2 linked regions of the Homo sapiens genome follow. The protein of the gene in region 1 purifies or fractionates together with the protein of each later gene. This does not show direct contact. Each region holds a gene or a part of one and is shown on either strand. Other genes may lie near its edges.

What was found.
Region 2: the proteins of ZNF318 (region 1) and CEP170 purify together in Homo sapiens (co-immunoprecipitation; one large-scale study listed by IntAct). This does not show direct contact.

Annotation. Positions count from the first base shown.
Region 1 is NC_000006.12:43,363,121-43,366,772, reverse strand, and holds part of ZNF318 (zinc finger protein 318), read left to right. Parts: intron 1-1,332; coding exon 1,333-1,481; intron 1,482-2,553; exon of another isoform or gene 2,554-3,358; intron 3,359-3,652.
Region 2 is NC_000001.11:243,245,196-243,248,847, forward strand, and holds part of CEP170 (centrosomal protein of 170 kDa), read right to left. Parts: intron 1-3,652.

The DNA of each region.
Region 1 (3,652 bases):
GTGTAGTGGTGTGATCATAGCTCACTGCAGTCTCAAACTCCCACGCTCAAGCGATCCTCTCACCTCAGCATCCTGAGTAGCTGGGACTACAGGTGCGTACCAACATCCCAGCTGATTTTATTTTAAAAAAATGTTTTGGTGTGGGGAGGGATTTCACTATGTTGCCCAGGCTGGTCTCAAACTCCTGGCCTCAAGTGATTCTCCTGCCTCAGCCTCCCAAAATGCTGGGCTTACAGGCATAAGCTACCATGCCTGGCCCGGGGAGTTAAAATTTTTGAGAGTAGTCAGGGAAGGCCTCCTGGGAAGGTGATTTTTGAATAAAGATCTGAAGGAGGTGAGGGTGTGCTGTGCAAGCATCTGGAGGAAAAATGTAGTCAGATGATGTCACTATCCTGTGTAAAACCCTCCTATAACTGTTAATTGCACTAAGAATAAAATCCAAATTTCCCAACTGTGCTTTCTGCCTATCTTTTCCTCTTCTGTCACTTTGCTGCAGCCACACCGGCCGCTTTTCTGTTACTTAAAGTATACCAAGCTCTATACTGAGGTGGTTCTTTTCTTTGCCTGAAACATCTTTCTACCTGTTCTTTGCAAAGCTGACACCTCATTCTTCAGGCCTCAGGTTATCACCTGAGAAAAACCTTTTCTAACCATCCTATCTGAAGTAACTCCTTTTATGGTACCATGTTTTAATGACTATAGCACTTACCAGAAGAATTTTTTTTTTCTTTAAACTTGTTTTTGGCTTACCTCCTTCACTAGAAGTATGTACACTAGAAGTAGGGTTCTGAGAGCAGGGACTTTATTCACTTCTCTTTTCCCATGCCCAGTAAGAATGAGAGGTCACCGTTTAGGAGAGTTAGAGGTATGGGCTTATATCTCTAAGAAAATGATAATTTTTAAAAAGTGCTTTATTTTTGGTATAGTGTCTTACCATAACCATTTCTCACCTTGTTGAACCCCAACTTTGCAGGGTTGTCTTTTGTTTTTGAGACAAGGTCCTGCTCATTGCCCAGGCTGAAGTGCTGTGGTGCAGTCATGGCTCACTGCAGCCCTGACCTCCCAAGCTTAAGCTATCCTCCCACCTCAGCCACCTGAGTAGTTGGGACCACACCTGGCTAATTTTAAACTTTTTTTTATAGAGATGGAGTCTGTGTTGCCCAGACTGGTCTCACATTCTTGCCTGGGCCTATACACCTCAGCCTCCCAAAGTGTTGGGTATACAGGCATGAGCCACCATGCCTGGCTAACTTTGTAACTAGGGAGGAGAGTTTTTGGATGTAGGGATGTCTTGACCCTATTGACTAACCATATTATCCTTTACTTTTGTAGAGACGCTCTCCTGGTCTGTGTTCTGACTCTTTGGAAAAGAGCTTAAGGATCACTGTTGGCAATGACCACTTCTGTGTTAGCACACCAGAACGGCGACGGCTTAGTGATCGGCTGGGGTCACCAGTGGATAATCTGGAAGACATGGACAGGTAGGCATCACCTAAGGCAGGGCCTACTATACTAGTACTTGAAGGCAGAAATGTTGCTGTTTTCCGAATGATATATTTGAAAGGATGGTGCCAGCTCTAAAGTTATTTCCTATGCCACATGTCCAGTACAAAATAAAACGCTGGGATAGAATTTCTAAGTGGGAGGAGTATAATGATGTGTAGACTCTGTTGTTGAATAAATTGTATAGAAAAAAAGACTTTAAAAAGGTCATCTGAGTCTGACTAGAAAGAAGAGGCTGAGGGGACATAATCAGAGTCCCCCAAATGAAGAACAGTTGAGATGGTATAGATTCTAAAACAGTGAAACTATGAGCAGTCCCTTCTCCAAAGAAAAGTTCTGGACAAAATGGGAAGTCTTTTTAAAATGGTGTTATTTTTTAGTTTATCCAGGCTGAAACAGATTCAGAAAGGGTTAGGTAAGTTCATGTCTAATATATGTGTGTATGTGAAGTAGATAAAGTATTAATAGAAAGCTAGAGACCTTCAAAAATGTTTAAGTTCAGTTATTATTTTACAACTATTGAGTGCTGAGGAAGGGTAGATACACTCAAGAGAGTTGGATATAGACCTCAGGTACTAGGAACTTAACCATATATAGATTGTAAATAATCACATTAGGTGTTTTTCACCTCACAAAAGTCAAAGTATGGATGGGAGTTCAGGAAAGCACTCTTTCTCAGAGCTGAGACCATGACTGTTATGGTCTCTGCCCAGCACATTGGGAGTTTTGACAAATGATTAGCAGTAGCAATAAATCAATGTAATGTAATTTCAAACTGAGACTGTCGCTTGCCGTGTTGCACAGAGCATAGCTAGGCGGGTGGGGGAGAGCTGGGCAGGAAGTCTGAGGACCAGTTTTGCCGTTGGTAATACCTAAAAGTTCCATTGGCTGTGGATGCAGTGAAGCAAGGCAGAACAGTCTTTTTTTTTTTTTTTTTTCAGGCTTAATTCACTTTATATTTCTTGTATAAAAACCCTATGTTGTAGCCACAGCTGGAGCCTACGTCCTCTGCACAGAGACTCTGGTGTGTGTCTTGATGAGGTGGTCAGTGAATTCCTGATAGGGAGACTTGGTGAATCCTGTCTCCTTCCAGAGGTCGGGGGTCAGGTAGCTGTAGGTCTTAGAGATGGCATCAAAGGTGGCCTTGGCGAAGTTGCCCAGGGTGGCAGTGCAGCCCCTGGCTGAGGTGTAGCAGTCATCAATACCAGCCATCATGAGCAGCTTCTTGGGCACGGGCTGAGACGATGCCAGTGCCCTTGGGCGCAGGGATGAGGTGCACCAGCACAGAGCCGCAGTAGCCTGTCACCTTGCAAGGAACGGTGTGGGGCTTGTGGATCTTGTTCCCCCAGTAGCCTCTGTGCACAGGGAGAATGGAGAGCTTGGCCAGGATGATGGCCCCGCAGGTGGCAGTGGCCACCTCCTTGGAGCACTTAACACCCAGACCGACGTGGCCATTGTAGTCCCCGATGGCAACAAACGCCTTGAACCTTTTCAACTGGCCAGTGTGGGTCTGCTTCTGCACTGGCATAATCTTCAACACCTCATCCTTGAGAGAGGCCCCCAGGAAAAAGTCAGTGATCTCAGATTCCTTGATGGGCAGGAAGAAGAGGTAGTTCTCCAGGGACTTGATCTTTATGTCCTTAACCAAGCAGCCCAGCTTGGTGACAGGCATCCACTCCTTATCCTTGGCCTTGCCTCCACGAGCTCCGTGGCCTCAGCCCTGTCCACAGCTGCAACCCCAGCCCCTCCATGGAAGCCACCACGGTTTCCCATCCCAGGGCCCCCGGGGCCTCTGCCCCCGCCCCACCCCCTCCACCGACATCATCTGCCATTTGGTGTTTTCTCAGAGAAGAAGCAAGGCAAAATAGTCTTATGTCATATAACATTGAAGCTTCTAAAGGGCTTCAAGATATGTGACTGTATCACTTAATTGAGGCAATAGCCCTTGCTCTTCTGGCTGCTTCTGTTTGGGGAAATTATTGAGTAGGTAGTCTGGGTAGGTGGTACATAGTGTGATTGTCTTCATTCTTTGCTGAGGTTTTGAGTTAGCTTCAGCAGTTCTTCTTAGGCCTAGGATGTCACTTCCCCTTTGCATAAACTTTGTTATGCACATGTGCTTCAGATAGAACTAATTATATTTTTAAATTAC
Region 2 (3,652 bases), on another chromosome or scaffold:
ATGGCCAATAAGCACATTTTAAAAAAATGTCAAGTGTTATTGATAAAAGAAATTTAAATAAGGTTTTTTTTTTTGGTTGTTGTTCATCAAAGTGGCAAAACTGTCCAGATTGGGTGGCTCATGCCTGTAACCCCACCACTTTGGGATGCTGAGACAGGAAAACTGCTAGAGCCCAGGAGTTTGAGACCAGCCTAGGGAACAAAATGAGACCTTGTCTCTATAAAAAAATAAAAAACCTTGGCCAGTGCGGTGGCTCACGCCTGTAATCCCAGCACTTTGGGAGGCCAAGGTGAGCGGATCACGAGGTCAGGAGTTCAAGACCAGCCTGACCAACATGGTGAAACCCCGTCTCTACTAAAAATACAAAAATTAGCCAGGTGTGGTGGTGTGTGCCTGTAATTCCAGCTACTCAGGAGGCTGAAGCAGAAGAATTGCTTGAACCCGCGAGGCAGAGGTTGCAGTGAGCCGAGATCTCGCCACTTCAATCCAGCCTGGGCGACAGAGCAAGACTCCATCTCAAGAAAACAAAACAAACAAACAAAAAACAAAAAACAAAAAACAAAACAAAAAAAACACAAAAAAGAAAAGAAAACAAAAAAACTTAGATGGGCATGGCAGCCCATGCCTACAGTCCCAGCTACCTGGGAGACTGAGCGGAGAGGATCCCTTGAGCCCAGGAGGTAAAGGCTGCAGCAAGCCATGAACACACCACTCCACTCTAGCCTGGGTAACAGAGCGGGACCTCGTCTCAAAAAAAAAAAGAAAAAAGAAAGCAAATTTTAAAAAAGATACGTAATATTCAGCACTGATGAAGGGGTGAAGAAACACACAGTTTCATATGCCAGTGGTAGAAGAATAAACTGATATAAACTGGAGGGGGTAATTTTATTAAAAAGTTAGAAAAGGTTTAATTAGTAGAATTCTGCATTTGTATCTGCATTGTATTTTAAGCATAATTTGTTGAAATCAAAGAAAAACATTGATTTGCACAGAAATTCAGAGTTAGAAATGTCCATTACAGTGTTGTTTACTTTTTTTTTTTTTTTTTTTTTTTGAGACAGAGTCTCGCTCTGCCACCCAGGCTGGAGTGCAGTGGAGCAATCTCAGCTCACTACAACATCTGCCTCCTGGATTAAAGCGATTCTCCTGCCTCAGCCTCCCGAGTAGCTGGGATTACAGGTGTGCACCACCACGCTCAGCTAATTTTTGTATTTTTAGTAGAGACAGGGTTTCCCCATGTTGGCCAGGCTGGTCTTGAACTCCTGACCTCAAGTGATCTGCTGGCTTCGGCCTCCCAAAGTGCTGGGATTACAGGCATGAGCCACTGGGCCCGGCCTGTTGTTTACAATTTTAAAAATACATTTAATTTTCATAAATTGTGTGTAAGTAGATTACATGTTTGAGAAGACAGATTCTATGCCACATTAAAAGTTAGAGCCAGAAAGTTTAACTTCATGATAAAATGTTACCAAATTAAACCAGAATAGACAAGAATACATAACAGGGTTACTGGCTAGTGGGATTATGATAGTACTTAATGGTAGAAAATCTTGTTTTCTAAATTTTCTGCCATGTATTAGGATTAGATTTGTAATATAAAAAATAAAATGGCCTTCAATTTGCAATGCATTATATGCATTTTTTATCCAAGGAGAAGTATTTAATGACCAGCCATAGCAAATCATATTATATAAGGTCTGCAAGATACCTATGTATTGTGAAGTTATAGTCCTATTGCCTCAAAAAGCTTACCACAAAAAGTCCTGTATTTGCGATGTTCCTTTTTCACCAAAATAAGTATTTTGCACTTTACCCCTATTATCATCAAGCAGACTCATTTCCCCCACCCTCCTGCTTCCTCAAATCAGTTTCTAGCTGGCTGCCTAGAGTTCAAAACCCCTAACCAGTCCCTAAGCTTTGAATTTGCACTTTTTCTATTCCATGTAACATGTGACAAACCATTACTCAGTTGAACACTTTCCAGAAAAAAGTCAGTTAAAAGAAGAAAGTCTTCCTGGCTGGCCTAGGGAAAAAAAAAGTAAGGAAGCCTTTTAACTTGCTTACTTTTCTACCTCAATTCTCTTTATTTAGACACTGTTTAGAATTAAAGGATGAGTTTAGGATTGGGAAAAAAAGCTATTATCTCAAAGCCTGGTTGTTCTTTTCTTTCTTTTTTGAGATGGAGTCTCACCCTGTTGCCCAGGCTGGAGTACAGTGACGTGATCTTGGCTCACTGCAATCTCCATCTCCTGGGCTCAAGCAATTCTCCTTCCTCAGCCTCCTGAGTAGCTGGGATTACAGGCCTGCGCCACCACGCCTGACTAATTTTTGTATTTTTAGTAGAGACGGGGTTTCACCATGTTGGCCAGGCTGGTCTCGAACTCCTGACCTCAGGTGATCCACCCGCTTCGGCCTCCCAAAGTGCTGGGACTACAGGCGTGAGCCACCGCGCCTGCCCTGGTTGTTCTTATCCTCTTTCTAGCCCTTTTCTCTACCCTCAAGAATATTATAAAATGATGTGCGAAACTGCCTATCGGGATAGAGTGCATAGGAAGTAAAAAACTATTCCTACAGACTCAAAATGAAAAATATTTTTATTTGCCAACATAGTTCTTCAAATCTAACACTATCAAGTTGGTACCACACTTGGGGCAATAAGGGAAGGAGACCCCTATCTGCAATTATACCTTTCATTTGGTTTTTACATCTACCTCGTTTGGCTACCACAATAAACCTCTGAGGTAGCTGGACTATCACTAGCTTCCTGATAAATTCTTCCTATGAAACAGCATCGCTTCTCCTGTTCAAACATCAGAGGCAGCAGCAGCTGCCATACTCATCCACGTAGGAAACAGCATTGGCCTCTTTATGAGTAAAACTTTGTTCAGGGCTTTAGATTTAGTAGTTGCCAGGGGAGAATAACTGTGAACATTCATGTTGATAAACCAGATTTAAAAAAGGAAATTGCTTTCTCAGAGACCATTCAGAAAGAAAGAGGATACTGCCTGATTTCTTATGAAGTATTTAGGTGATTAAAGGTGATACAGGGGACTGATCACTCCTTATCTCTAAAAATACTTCCTTTACTTGGCTTGTGGGACAACACACTCTTCAGTTTCCTCACACCCCACTGTCCACTTTTCAATCCTCCTCGATGGCGCCTTCTCTTTTGCTCAGCTTTCCATGTGGAAAGTACCAATTCTCAATTCTTGGATCTCTTCTCAGTCTAACTCCCTAGCCAAGAGATCCCTTTAAGTCTACTGGTGATGCTTAACATTTAACTATCCTCAGTCCAAACCTCTCCTCTGAATGCTTGACTTACATATCTAACTGCCTACCTGATGTGTCCACTTGGGCGTTTAACAGACACTTCAAACTTAACATATCCAAAACATTTGACTCTCTAAAGCCAGAAACTAGTAACTTTCACTATTGCCACTACTGTCGCTCTAGTCTAAGCCATTAATGTCTCTTAAACCAGATCATTCCAATCATTTCCTAGCTTATCTCATGGTTCCCAGTGTTTTAAAGAATTCCCAGAGCCATTCTTTAAAAATATAACCCAATTTTTTGGCTTTGCTCAAAATCCTCCAATGAATGCTCATAGCACTTAAAATCAATGAATAAAATCTCTATGCAACCTCATTTCCTC